Linked DNA regions of Homo sapiens. The protein of the gene in region 3 interacts with the protein of the main gene of each other region in a biochemical or structural test. Each region holds a gene or a part of one and is shown on either strand. Other genes may lie near its edges. The genes, in order: PROC, KLKB1, SERPINA5 and ACR.

Region 1 (3,593 bases), on a different chromosome or scaffold from region 3:
TTTTCCAAAATGTGGATGACACAGTAAGGCCACCATGGGTCCAGAGGATGAGGCTCAGGGGCGAGCTGGTAACCAGCAGGGGCCTCGAGGAGCAGGTGGGGACTCAATGCTGAGGCCCTCTTAGGAGTTGTGGGGGTGGCTGAGTGGAGCGATTAGGATGCTGGCCCTATGATGTCGGCCAGGCACATGTGACTGCAAGAAACAGAATTCAGGAAGAAGCTCCAGGAAAGAGTGTGGGGTGACCCTAGGTGGGGACTCCCACCAGCCACAGTGTAGGTGGTTCAGTCCACCCTCCAGCCACTGCTGAGCACCACTGCCTCCCCGTCCCACCTCACAAAGAGGGGACCTAAAGACCACCCTGCTTCCACCCATGCCTCTGCTGATCAGGGTGTGTGTGTGACCGAAACTCACTTCTGTCCACATAAAATCGCTCACTCTGTGCCTCACATCAAAGGGAGAAAATCTGATTGTTCAGGGGGTCGGAAGACAGGGTCTGTGTCCTATTTGTCTAAGGGTCAGAGTCCTTTGGAGCCCCCAGAGTCCTGTGGACGTGGCCCTAGGTAGTAGGGTGAGCTTGGTAACGGGGCTGGCTTCCTGAGACAAGGCTCAGACCCGCTCTGTCCCTGGGGATCGCTTCAGCCACTAGGACCTGAAAATTGTGCACGGCCTGGGCCCCCTTCCAAGGCATCCAGGGATGCTTTCCAGTGGAGGCTTTCAGGGCAGGAGACCCTCTGGCCTGCACCCTCTCTTGCCCTCAGCCTCCACCTCCTTGACTGGACCCCCATCTGGACCTCCATCCCCACCACCTCTTTCCCCAGTGGCCTCCCTGGCAGACGCCACAGTGACTTTCTGCAGGCACATATCTGATCACATCAAGTCCCCACCGTGCTCCCACCTCACCCATGGTCTCTCAGCCCCAGCAGGCCTTGGCTGGCCTCTCTGATGGAGCAGGCATCAGGCACAGGCCGTGGGTCTCAACGTGGGCTGGGTGGTCCTGGACCAGCAGCAGCCGCCGCAGCAGCAACCCTGGTACCTGGTTAGGAACGCAGACCCTCTGCCCCCATCCTCCCAACTCTGAAAAACACTGGCTTAGGGAAAGGCGCGATGCTCAGGGGTCCCCCAAAGCCCGCAGGCAGAGGGAGTGATGGGACTGGAAGGAGGCCGAGTGACTTGGTGAGGGATTCGGGTCCCTTGCATGCCAGAGGCTGCTGTGGGAGCAGACAGTCGCGAGAGCAGCACTGCAGCTGCATGGGGAGAGGGTGTTGCTCCAGGGACGTGGGATGGAGGCTGGGCGCGGGCGGGTGGCGCTGGAGGGCGGGGGAGGGGCAGGGAGCACCAGCTCCTAGCAGCCAACGACCATCGGGCGTCGATCCCTGTTTGTCTGGAAGCCCTCCCCTCCCCTGCCCGCTCACCCGCTGCCCTGCCCCACCCGGGCGCGCCCCCTCCGCACACCGGCTGCAGGAGCCTGACGCTGCCCGCTCTCTCCGCAGCTGGCCTTCTGGTCCAAGCACGTCGGTGAGTGCGTTCTAGATCCCCGGCTGGACTACCGGCGCCCGCGCCCCTCGGGATCTCTGGCCGCTGACCCCCTACCCCGCCTTGTGTCGCAGACGGTGACCAGTGCTTGGTCTTGCCCTTGGAGCACCCGTGCGCCAGCCTGTGCTGCGGGCACGGCACGTGCATCGACGGCATCGGCAGCTTCAGCTGCGACTGCCGCAGCGGCTGGGAGGGCCGCTTCTGCCAGCGCGGTGAGGGGGAGAGGTGGATGCTGGCGGGCGGCGGGGCGGGGCTGGGGCCGGGTTGGGGGCGCGGCACCAGCACCAGCTGCCCGCGCCCTCCCCTGCCCGCAGAGGTGAGCTTCCTCAATTGCTCGCTGGACAACGGCGGCTGCACGCATTACTGCCTAGAGGAGGTGGGCTGGCGGCGCTGTAGCTGTGCGCCTGGCTACAAGCTGGGGGACGACCTCCTGCAGTGTCACCCCGCAGGTGAGAAGCCCCCAATACATCGCCCAGGAATCACGCTGGGTGCAGGGTGGGCAGGCCCCCTGACGGGGCGCGGCGCGGGGGGCTCAGGAGGGTTTCTAGGGAGGGAGCGAGGAACAGAGTTGAGCCTTGGGGCAGCGGCAGACGCGCCCCAACACCGGGGCCACTGTTAGCGCAATCAGCCCGGGAGCTGGGCGCGCCCTCCGCTTTCCCTGCTTCCTTTCTTCCTGGCGTCCCCGCCTTCCTCCGGGCGCCCCCTGCGCACCTGGGGCCACCTCCTGGAGCGCAAGCCCAGTGGTGGCTCCGCTCCCCAGTCTGAGCGTATCTGGGGCGAGGCGTGCAGCGTCCTCCTCCATGTAGCCTGGCTGCGTTTTTCTCTGACGTTGTCCGGCGTGCATCGCATTTCCCTCTTTACCCCCTTGCTTCCTTGAGGAGAGAACAGAATCCCGATTCTGCCTTCTTCTATATTTTCCTTTTTATGCATTTTAATCAAATTTATATATGTATGAAACTTTAAAAATCAGAGTTTTACAACTTTTACATTTCAGCATGCTGTTCCTTGGCATGGGTCCTTTTTTCATTCATTTTCATTAAAAGGTGGACCCTTTTAATGTGGAAATTCCTATCTTCTGCCTCTAGGGACATTTATCACTTATTTCTTCTACAATCTCCCCTTTACTTCCTCTATTTTCTCTTTCTGGACCTCCCATTATTCAGACCTCTTTCCTCTAGTTTTATTGTCTCTTCTATTTCCCATCTCTTTGACTTTGTGTTTTCTTTCAGGGAACTTTCTTTTTTTTCTTTTTTTTTGAGATGGAGTTTCACTCTTGTTGTCCCAGGCTGGAGTGCAATGACGTGATCTCAGCTCACCACAACCTCCGCCTCCTGGATTCAAGCGATTCTCCTGCCGCAGCCTCCCGAGTAGCTGGGATTACAGGCATGCGCCACCACGCCCAGCTAATTTTGTGTTTTTAGTAGAGAAGGGGTTTCTCCGTGTTGGTCAAGCTGGTCTTGAACTCCTGACCTCAGGTGATCCACCTGCCTTGGCCTCCTAAAGTGCTGGGATTACAGGCGTGAGCCACCGCGCCCAGCCTCTTTCAGGGAACTTTCTACAACTTTATAATTCAATTCTTCTGCAGAAAAAAATTTTTGGCCAGGCTCAGTAGCTCAGACCAATAATTCCAGCACTTTGAGAGGCTGAGGTGGGAGGATTGCTTGAGCTTGGGAGTTTGAGACTAGCCTGGGCAACACAGTGAGACCCTGTCTCTATTTTTAAAAAAAGTAAAAAAAGATCTAAAAATTTAACTTTTTATTTTGAAATAATTAGATATTTCCAGGAAGCTGCAAAGAAATGCCTGGTGGGCCTGTTGGCCTGTGGGTTTCCTGCAAGGCCTTGGGAAGGCCCTGTCATTGGCAGAACCCCAGATCGTGAGGGCTTTCCTTTTAGGCTGCTTTCTAAGAGGACTCCTCCAAGCTCTTGGAGGATGGAAGACGCTCACCCATGGTGTTCGGCCCCTCAGAGCAGGGTGGGGCAGGGGAGCTGGTGCCTGTGCAGGCTGTGGACATTTGCATGACTCCCTGTGGTCAGCTAAGAGCACCACTCCTTCCTGAAGC
Region 2 (3,593 bases), on a different chromosome or scaffold from region 3:
CTCTGGGCTGTCACAGCTGCTGTCCACACCTGGGAGAGCACCCTGGATGGCTCATCTGTGTACTTGCTTTCTTGTTAAATTGCAGTGAGTTCACATGTGATTTAATCGGATCAAATGGCCTTTACAGACTGATAAAAATATGGCTGTTTCAGGTGGTGTTTTGAGCTGCTAAGGGCGTGGCTTTTCACTGAGTACGTGGTCCCCGTTCCTCAGGGAACACCCAGTAGCCACATGCCTCCTAAACCTAGAGTAGGGCTGTCTCCTGGCCTAACTGCCCAAATGAGATTCATAAGTTAGGGATGATCTGTAGTTATCACTACAGATTTGTCCTTGGTTTCACCAAGGATTTTCCTAATTTTACAAACAAAACCCCTAAGGCTCCTGGAAGGAGGGTAGAAGTGAAGGTGCTCCGGGGGCAACACAGCTGATGAGCTGAACCAGAACTCGACCCTTGGGTCACACACATTTCACAGTGCTCACTCCACCTTTTGTTTTTTTAATGGATTTAATGGTGTTTTAAAGCCTCCTGCCTCTCAACACATATGAATTCATTATATTTACAGATTTCCTTCTCTTGTGGTCCATCTTCCTGCATAGATCTTGAGAGATGTCAGGCTAACCACGTTTCCTCAGTTAATTTAACAAAACCATTTGCAACTCTGACATGGAAAATTCCTACCATGTGACTTATTAATTTATCAATTGAGATGGTACACATATTTTCAAGCCAAAAGGAGGAAAACATAAATTGGAAAAAAAAGGTTTTTTTATTTTTATCACCTCTGGGGAAGAAAGTCTGATAAACGAAGCTGGTTGATAAAATTGCAATTAGGGGAAGCAACATCATGGTTTCTGTTCGGAGGCTAACCAGATGGCATACTTGAAATAGAGAATGTCCTAGAAATCAACTGGTTGCTTGGCCAAAATATCTATAAATAGTGCCCAACATATTAGATAGGAAAAGCAAAGTAAAAACAATTTTAACAGGTTAGGACATTGGGCTGAAGTATTGCATATATTTAATGTCATGTGCGTCCGTGTGAAGAGACCACTAAACAGGCTTTGTGTGAGCAAGAAAGCTTTTTAATCACCTGGGTGCAGGCAGGCTGAGTCCGAAAAGAGAGTCAGTGAAGGGAGATGGGGTGGGGACGTTTTATAGGATTTGGGTAGGTAGTGGAAAATTACAGTCAAAGGGGGTTGTTCTCTGGCGGGCAGCGGTGGGGGGTCACAAGGTGCTCAGTGGGGGAGCTTCTGAGCCAGGAGAAGGAATTTCACAAGGTAACGTCATCAGTTAAGGCAGGAACCGGCCATTTTCACTTCTTTTGTCTTTCTTCAGTTACTTCAGGTCATCTAGATGTATACGTGCAGGCCTGGGCCCAGAGGCCTGACATTCCTGTCTTCTTATATTAATAAGAAAAAGAAAACGAAATAGTGGTAAAGTGTTGGGGTGGCGAAAGTTTTTGGGGGTGGTATGGAGAGATAATGGGCGATGTTTCTCAGGGCTGCTTCGAGCGGGATTAGGGGCGGCGTGGGAACCTACAGTGGGAGAGATGAAGCTGAAGGAATATTTTATGGTAAGGGGTGATATTGTGGGGTTGTTAGAAGCAGCATTTGTCATATAGAATGATTGGTGATGGCCTGGATATGGTTTTGTGTGAAATGAGAAACTAAATGGAAGACACAAGGTCTGAATAAGAGAAGGAGAAAAACAGGTGTTAAAGGACTAAGAATTGGGAGGACCCAGGACATCTAATTAGAGAGTGCCTAAGGGGGTTCAGTGTAATTACTTGCTTGGTTGGTGAGTTTTTGGGCTCTATCCTTGACAGAGTCCTCCTTTTTAAGTTGGAGGCTGAGCTTGGTGAGGTGTGTTTTTAAAAGACCATTAGTCTGTTCTACCTTTCCTGAAGATTGAGGATGGTGAGGGGTATGAAGGTTTTACTGAATACCAAGAGCCTGAGAAACTGCTTGGGTGATTTGACTAATAAAGGCCGGTCTGTTATCGGATTGTATAGAGATGGAAAGGCCAAACTGAGGAATTATGTCTGACAGAAGGGAAGAAATGACCACGGTGGCCTTCTCAGACCCTGTGGGAAAGGCCTCTACCCATCCAGTGAAAGTGTCTACCCAGACCAAGAGGTATTTTAGTTTCCTGACTCCGGGTATGTGAGTAAAGTCAATCTGCCAGTCCTGGGCGGGGGCAAATCCCCGAGCTTGATGTGTAGGGAAGGGAGGGGGCCTGAGCAATCCCTGAGGAGGAGTGGAGTAGCAGATGGAACACTGAGCAGTTATTTTTTGAGGATAGATTTTTACGACGGAAAGGAAAAGTGAGGTTTTAAGAGGTGGGTTAGTGGCTTGTAACTTACATGGAAGAGTTTATGAAATGATGACAGAATAGAATGGGCCTGTGAGGCTGGAGGAGATATTTTCCTTGGTCCAAGAATTATTTGCCTTGTGTGGGAAGAGATTGATAGGTGGAAGTTTCAATGGGGGAGTAGATGGGAGTGACAGATGAGGAAGAAAAAAACTGGCTGTGAGGGATAGAAGTTGGAATGCTCGCTGCTTTTTTAGCTACCTTATCAGCATAGGCATTGTCCTGAGCAGTGGGATCTGATGCCTTTTGGTGGCCCTTGCAGTGAATGGCTTCAGCTTCCTTTGGAAGTAAAGTGGCCTTGAGAGGAGTTTTTATTAAAGAGGCATTAAGATGGAGAACCCTTGTGTAGTGAGGAAACCTCCTTCAGCCCATATAACCGCATGGTGGTGCAGAATATGGAAGGCATATTTAGAGTCAGTATAAATATTGACACGTAGTCCCTTTGCAAGAGTGAGGGCCTGAGTTAAGGCAATGAGTTCAGCTTGCTGAGAGGTAGTGGAGCGGGGCAGAGCAGTAGCCTCAGTGATAGATGTGGAAGATACTACAGCATAGCCTGCCTTTGCTGGTGAGTGGTGATTAGGCCTGGTGGAACTGCCATCAATAAACCAAGTGTGATCAGGGTAAGGAACAGGAAAGAAGGAAATATGGGGAAATGGAGTGGATGTCAGGTGGATCAGAGAGATACAGTCATGGGGGTGGGGGCCAGCCTAAAACAGTAAGGTCAAGTTGTTTGAACAGAAAGGCTACAGGGCGTGGTCCTGGCTCTTGTGTAAGAATTTTGACTGCGCAGCCCTGCACTTCGGCTGTGTGTAATGAAAAGGGTTGGGATGAGTTAGGGAGAGCTAGTGTGGGAGCAGTTTCTAGGGCTGTTTTTAAGGAATGGCAAGAGGAGTGGCTAAAGGATTTAGGATCTTTGGGGTCAGCTAGCTTTGCTTTTGTGAGTTTATATAATGGTTTAGTCAGGATGGTAAAACTTAGTATCCAAAGGCGGAAGTACTTAACCATACCTAGGAAGAAAAGGAGTTGTTTTGTAGAAGGGGTTGGGGTTTGGGAGATGAGCCAGACACAATCAGCAGGGAGAGCACATGTGTTTTCATGAAGAATTATGCCGAGATAGGTAATGGATGAGGAAGAAATTTGGGCTTGACTGAAGTAATGGGGGCTGTCCTCGAAGCCTTGTGGCAGTACAGCCCAAGTAAGTTGCTGAGGCTGACGGGTGTCA
Region 3 (3,500 bases):
GGGTCTCAAACATGTAGCCCAGGAGAGCCTAAGTGAACCTGGGGCCCTCTCCAAACAGATCCTGGGGGAGACTCAGTGCACACCCGGAGAAGCAGCTCCTCCCCATCGGATCTCTAGTGCTTGGCAGGGGGCGGGGTCTTGAGGGGGTGTCCACAACACATGGCAGACTGCAGATGAAGAAACTGAGGCCCAGAGGGGGTGAGGCTTGCCCAGGGTGACCTAGTAGCTGAATAGATGGGAGAATGGAGGCCAGGGCCTCACTGAGACTCTCTGGTCAGCTGCCCCTGGGCTGTATCCAATAAGGAAACTCCCCTGCTTCTGAAGCTGTTCTCGAAATTATCAGCTCAGTGTGACCCTGTGGGGGGTTGAGCCACATTGTTTCTTTAGAAGCATCTCCATACATGGCTGGTTCCAACCCTTGGCAGGAGGGACCATATTGTGCTGTAAAATAGACTCATTTAGAGAAGCCGGAGATTAAAGCACCCACCTATGTCCTTCAAAGCTCTCCAGGCAAGTGCCATGGTGGGAACAGGTAGGGAGTGTCAGTGGGGGGAAGCCCAGACTCTGCTCACTCATTATCTGCAGATTAGGGCTATTGTTGGTGGCTACTAAGTCAGGGATTTCAAAATCAGGAAGATGCAGCCAGGAAAAGAGGAGGCAGGACTCTGCAGAGGAGGCAGGACTCTGCAGAGTCAGAGTGATAACCGAGTCTGAGTCCAAGCTTTGCCAGTGTTAGCAAGCGACTCCATCTCTCTGAACCTCGGATTACCCATCTGTAAAATAGAGCTAGCAGCAAGATGTACCTTTTTGGGTGGTGCAGGGCTGAAGGAGTTGGCACAGTGCCTGAAAGAGGGTGCGGGCAATGCGCCCAACTGCTGTGGCTGCTGGGTTTGGTGCCAGGTTCGATTCTGCAGGCAGAAACTTCTACATGAGGCTCCTTCTCGGAAGGAGCTCAGGACACAATTTGGAGGCTGGGCTGGCAAGGGTGACCTGCTGGAGCTATTCAACTTCACTTAAAGACAGGCCTGCAGTCCAAGCCTGCCCAATTCCTGAGACCATTCTCTCTCCACTGCTGAGCCCCACGGCCACTCTGCAAGGGATTTCCCACCCACCTGTTTGGGGCCCTTTGGAGTTTGGTTTTAATTGGGTCACGGGATGCTGTGACAGGCTGCCCCTGCCTGGTGGGGATCTGGGGTCACTGATGACATTGTGCCCATGGAGAGAGCCCAGCAGAAAGGGATTCCCTCCAAGGCGACACACAGGGCAAAGCTCACATCAGAAGCCAGGCAGGCCCTCTGCACCTGGTAATTAGCCAGCCTGGGTGCTGTCAGGCTCACACGTGTGTGTGTGTGTGTGTGTGTGTGTGTGTGTGTGTGTGTAAAGCATGTACCCTATGGTACAGTTGAGAATATGGAGGCCTCAGATGGGGCTTTTGCCAGAAACTGCCATGCCTACTGCTCACACTTCCATAGCACGTGCCCCCAAGCACCCCATGGTGTAGGTGCTGTTATTATCACTATCTTACAGTTATGGAGCAGTGGCTCAAGGTGTAACTGACTTGCCCAAAATCACACTACAAGGACACAGCAGGGCTGAGATTTGAACCCAGGCAGTGGCTTCAGAGCCTGAGCTGTTTCCTACTGCAGAGGGAGGAGGCAAGACTTCTACCCGTAGCCAGATGGGGAGGCATGGGCACAGGAACGGCTCTTGGGTGAAGTGGAGGGAGGAAGAGGAGGACTGAAGGCCAAGGCCACGTCAGGAGTGATGGGAGACCCCACAAAGGCCTCCCTGAGAAGAGCTAGAGACAAAGATGAGTGCCTCCTCATCTGGAAGATGAAAAGATGTCTTTGCCTGCATGGGCTGCTGTCACAAAGTCCCAGGGGCTAGGGGGCTTCAACAACAGAAATTTCTTTCTTTACAACTCTGGAAGCTGGAAGTCTGAGATTAAGGCACCAGCAGGATTTGTTCCTTCCAAGGCCCCTCTCCTTGGCTCACAGGTGGCTGCCTTCTCCCTGTCTTCACCTGGTCTTCCCTCTGTGCATGTCTCTATCCTGATCTCCTCTTTTTAATTTTTGTGTAAGGACGTAGTCATATTGGGTTGGGGCCCACTCTAGTGACCTCATTCTAACTCAGTCCCCTCTTTAAAAGCCCTATCTCCAGATATAGTCACATTCTGGGGTATTGAAGGTAAGGACTTCAGCATATGCATTTTGGGGGCACAATTCAGCCAGAACAGGAGGACGGTGGGGATGTCCACATGAAGAGGTTCAGGCAGAATTCCTTTAGGAGGGGAAGATGTCTCTCTGTGGGACAAGGGTGGCATGGAGCAGCCCCTGGGGGAAGGAGAAGGGGACAGTTTGCATACTGGTATTCTGCCTACCCCAGGGTGGACACTCACTCAGCGTTTGCTGAATGAACAGGGCAAGGCCAGCAGTGCTGATGGTCCCAGGCATGTAGCTGGTCTGAGTTCATAGAAGGACCACAGCGCCCTGCCATGTGCCAAACCAGGACACCAGAGTGAAGGCCAGAAGCTCACATGGAAGCAGCTTAGTTCCCTGGTAACCTCGAGATGCTGATGAGACAGAGCAGAGCAGAGGGAACCCTCTCCCTCCATATCCCATCCTCCAAAATGTGTCCCTTGATGTGGATGGGTAGACAGGATTCCTGCCCTGGCAGCCAGACCCCTGCCTTGGGTCTGCACCTCCTCTCCCTCCTTCCTCTCCCCGTCATCCCTAAATCTTGTCCTCGAGCCACTGCCACCCTGTGTAAACCCTCATGCCCAGTCTTGCGGGTGCCATCCCTTCTCTTTGAAGCTGAATGGACCAAACATACCCATTGAGTGTTGGGTGGGGACATCTCTGGAAAGTCAGCACCTGGACCAGCTCCACCCCTCTCTGAGGACACCTTCTTTCCCTTTCAGAACAAAGAACAGCCACCATGCAGCTCTTCCTCCTCTTGTGCCTGGTGCTTCTCAGCCCTCAGGGGGCCTCCCTTCACCGCCACCACCCCCGGGAGATGAAGAAGAGAGTCGAGGACCTCCATGTAGGTGCCACGGTGGCCCCCAGCAGCAGAAGGGACTTTACCTTTGACCTCTACAGGGCCTTGGCTTCCGCTGCCCCCAGCCAGAGCATCTTCTTCTCCCCTGTGAGCATCTCCATGAGCCTGGCCATGCTCTCCCTGGGGGCTGGGTCCAGCACAAAGATGCAGATCCTGGAGGGCCTGGGCCTCAACCTCCAGAAAAGCTCAGAGAAGGAGCTGCACAGAGGCTTTCAGCAGCTCCTTCAGGAACTCAACCAGCCCAGAGATGGCTTCCAGCTGAGCCTCGGCAATGCCCTTTTCACCGACCTGGTGGTAGACCTGCAGGACACCTTCGTAAGTGCCATGAAGACGCTGTACCTGGCAGACACTTTCCCTACCAACTTTAGGGACTCTGCAGGGGCCATGAAGCAGATCAATGATTATGTGGCAAAGCAAACGAAGGGCAAGATTGTGGACTTGCT
Region 4 (2,411 bases), on a different chromosome or scaffold from region 3:
CAGCTGAGCCGAGGAGTTCTGAAGAGGGACAAGAAGCAGGGGGAGTGGCTTACAGCCAGACTGTGGGAGTGGACAGTGTGTCTCAGACTGGAGTCTGGAGAGGAGCAGTCCTGAGGCCAGGCTGCAGCCCCACCACCTCTCTACTGTGACCTGGGTGGGCGGTGCTCCAGCCTTCTGATCCAAAATGGGAATAACGGGACCATGTGACTCAGGGAGTGCTTGGTGCACACTAGGTGTTATTGGTAATACTGCAACTAACCTCCATAATCCATCGTTAATACGCACACCCACCCCCCATCCACCTGTCCACGGGCCTCCACCCTTCCTTCCTCTCTTCCTCTCTCCTCTGGCCTTGATTTGGATAACATTTCCCCACCTCCTCCCACCACCTCTAGTCTGCTCTTTCTGGTGTATAAGGAGGGGTCGGGGCATCGACTGGATGGGTCTGAGGTTTAACTGGAGCATCACAGAGGATGGGGTTCGGTGGGGCAAGGAGGCAGGGCTTTTGTCCGTGTCTCCCGTGATCACTGACCACCGAGTGGTCTGACTATAGCCCCCAGGCCATCATCTATACTGATGGAGGCACGTGTGGATCTCATCGACCTGGACTTGTGTAACTCGACCCAGTGGTACAATGGGCGCGTTCAGCCAACCAATGTGTGCGCGGGGTATCCTGTAGGCAAGATCGACACCTGCCAGGTAACCTTCCTTCTGGCTTCTGGGCCCCTGGGTCCCTCCAGGACTCTCCCGGCCCCTGAGAACATCCTCCTTTTGGATCCCCAAGCTCCACTATCTCCACTGCTCTGCCCAGGGCCCTTCTCTAGTGACTGCTTCCCCGGTCCCTTTTCTAGCACCTACTCTCACAGTGGGGATGAGCGGTGACAGCCACCGGCTGCCCCTGCCATGTGCCCCTGTGGACACGTGGGTTTGCTCATCTCACTGCAAGGAAAGCCCTGACAATTCACACCCTCCTCACATCCCAAATGAAGCCCCTGACACCCCCTCAAACTTTACTACAACCACTTGTGTTTACAGCAGCAGGAGACCATGTCACTGTGGAAATTGTCCTCCCAGAGCCTTCCGACCCCTCTGGGCAGGGGAAGAGTGGCTCAGGCAGATAGTGACCTCTGTGTCCTTCTGGACAGGGAGACAGCGGCGGGCCTCTCATGTGCAAAGACAGCAAGGAAAGCGCCTATGTGGTCGTGGGAATCACAAGCTGGGGGGTAGGCTGTGCCCGTGCCAAGCGCCCCGGAATCTACACGGCCACCTGGCCCTATCTGAACTGGATCGCCTCCAAGATTGGTTCTAACGCTTTGCGTATGATTCAATCGGCCACCCCTCCACCTCCCACCACTCGACCGCCCCCGATTCGACCCCCCTTCTCCCACCCTATCTCTGCTCACCTTCCTTGGTATTTCCAACCGCCCCCTCGACCACTTCCACCCCGACCACCGGCAGCCCAGCCCCGACCCCCACCTTCACCCCCGCCCCCACCCCCACCTCCAGCCTCACCTTTACCCCCACCCCCACCCCCACCCCCACCTACACCCTCATCTACCACAAAACTTCCCCAAGGACTTTCTTTTGCCAAGCGCCTACAGCAGCTCATAGAGGTCTTGAAGGGGAAGACCTATTCCGACGGAAAGAACCATTATGACATGGAGACCACAGAGCTCCCAGAACTGACCTCGACCTCCTGATCTGACCTGGTTCTCAACAGACCCAGTGAGCCCTTCACTCCTGAGAAAAAGGAAAGATGAAATAAATAAATAAACATATATATATAGATATACACACACACATATCTGTATGTATACATGCATATACATCAAGAGATGCTTTCTGGACTTCTTCCTATCCCCCCTCCCAACCCAAATTTCCCCTATAAAATCTACCCTCTCTCCTTCACCCTACAATAAGGCGGAATTGCTTGTACATTAGTGCCAATCGTGTTTTTTAAAATCTTGATTTTTAATGCTGGAATAAGGTGACCTGGGGCCGTAGACCGGGGATGGTCTTTATTTCACACTTAGGGAGAAACGACAAATGGTGAAAATAAAAGAGCCATCTCTGCATGTGCAAGTCAAAGGGGGTGGACCCCCAAAGCAGCAGCTGTGAGTGAGCTGACGGGGAAAGAGGGGGTGTGGGTCCAAGTCTTCTATCAGGAGGCTGGTGGTGTTGACACCCACAGAGAAGATTCTGCATGAAGGTTGAACTCCCCAGAACACAAAGGCTAAGGAGGCCACTAGGCCACCAAAACAAGTGTCTACTACCAAACACAATTTTGCTTGTGGCTTGTTAGTGTCCAGTTGACACCAACAAGCCTGTTCATTACTTGCCTGTAGTTAAATCTTATTAGTTCCTGGATTTGAGCAAATTAAAAAATGTATTCTTTGCTAGAGCTTTCTAGG

The links.
Region 1: the proteins of SERPINA5 (region 3) and PROC form a complex in vitro, tested with the Homo sapiens proteins (one study listed by BioGRID).
Region 2: the proteins of SERPINA5 (region 3) and KLKB1 form a complex in vitro, tested with the Homo sapiens proteins (one study listed by BioGRID).
Region 4: the proteins of SERPINA5 (region 3) and ACR form a complex in vitro, tested with the Homo sapiens proteins (one study listed by BioGRID).

What each region holds. Positions count from the first base shown.
Region 1 is NC_000002.12:127,421,427-127,425,019, forward strand, and holds part of PROC (vitamin K-dependent protein C isoform 10 preproprotein), read left to right. Parts: coding exon 1-23; intron 24-1,490; coding exon 1,491-1,515; coding exon of another isoform or gene 1,516-1,607; coding exon 1,608-1,745; coding exon of another isoform or gene 1,746-1,847; coding exon 1,848-1,982; intron 1,983-2,110; exon of another isoform or gene 2,111-2,192; intron 2,193-3,273; exon of another isoform or gene 3,274-3,593. UniProt on the Homo sapiens protein: Protein C is a vitamin K-dependent serine protease that regulates blood coagulation by inactivating factors Va and VIIIa in the presence of calcium ions and phospholipids. Exerts a protective effect on the endothelial cell barrier function.
Region 2 is NC_000004.12:186,240,933-186,244,525, forward strand, and holds part of KLKB1 (plasma kallikrein isoform 1 preproprotein), read left to right. Parts: intron 1-3,593. UniProt on the Homo sapiens protein: Participates in the surface-dependent activation of blood coagulation. Activates, in a reciprocal reaction, coagulation factor XII/F12 after binding to negatively charged surfaces.
Region 3 is NC_000014.9:94,584,426-94,587,925, forward strand, and holds part of SERPINA5 (plasma serine protease inhibitor preproprotein), read left to right. Parts: intron 1-2,920; 5' UTR 2,921-2,937; coding exon 2,938-3,500. UniProt on the Homo sapiens protein: Heparin-dependent serine protease inhibitor acting in body fluids and secretions. Inactivates serine proteases by binding irreversibly to their serine activation site. Involved in the regulation of intravascular and extravascular proteolytic activities.
Region 4 is NC_000022.11:50,743,508-50,745,918, forward strand, and holds the end of ACR (acrosin precursor), read left to right. Parts: intron 1-553; coding exon 554-699; intron 700-1,145; coding exon 1,146-1,700; 3' UTR 1,701-1,832; downstream 1,833-2,411. UniProt on the Homo sapiens protein: Acrosin is the major protease of mammalian spermatozoa. It is a serine protease of trypsin-like cleavage specificity, it is synthesized in a zymogen form, proacrosin and stored in the acrosome.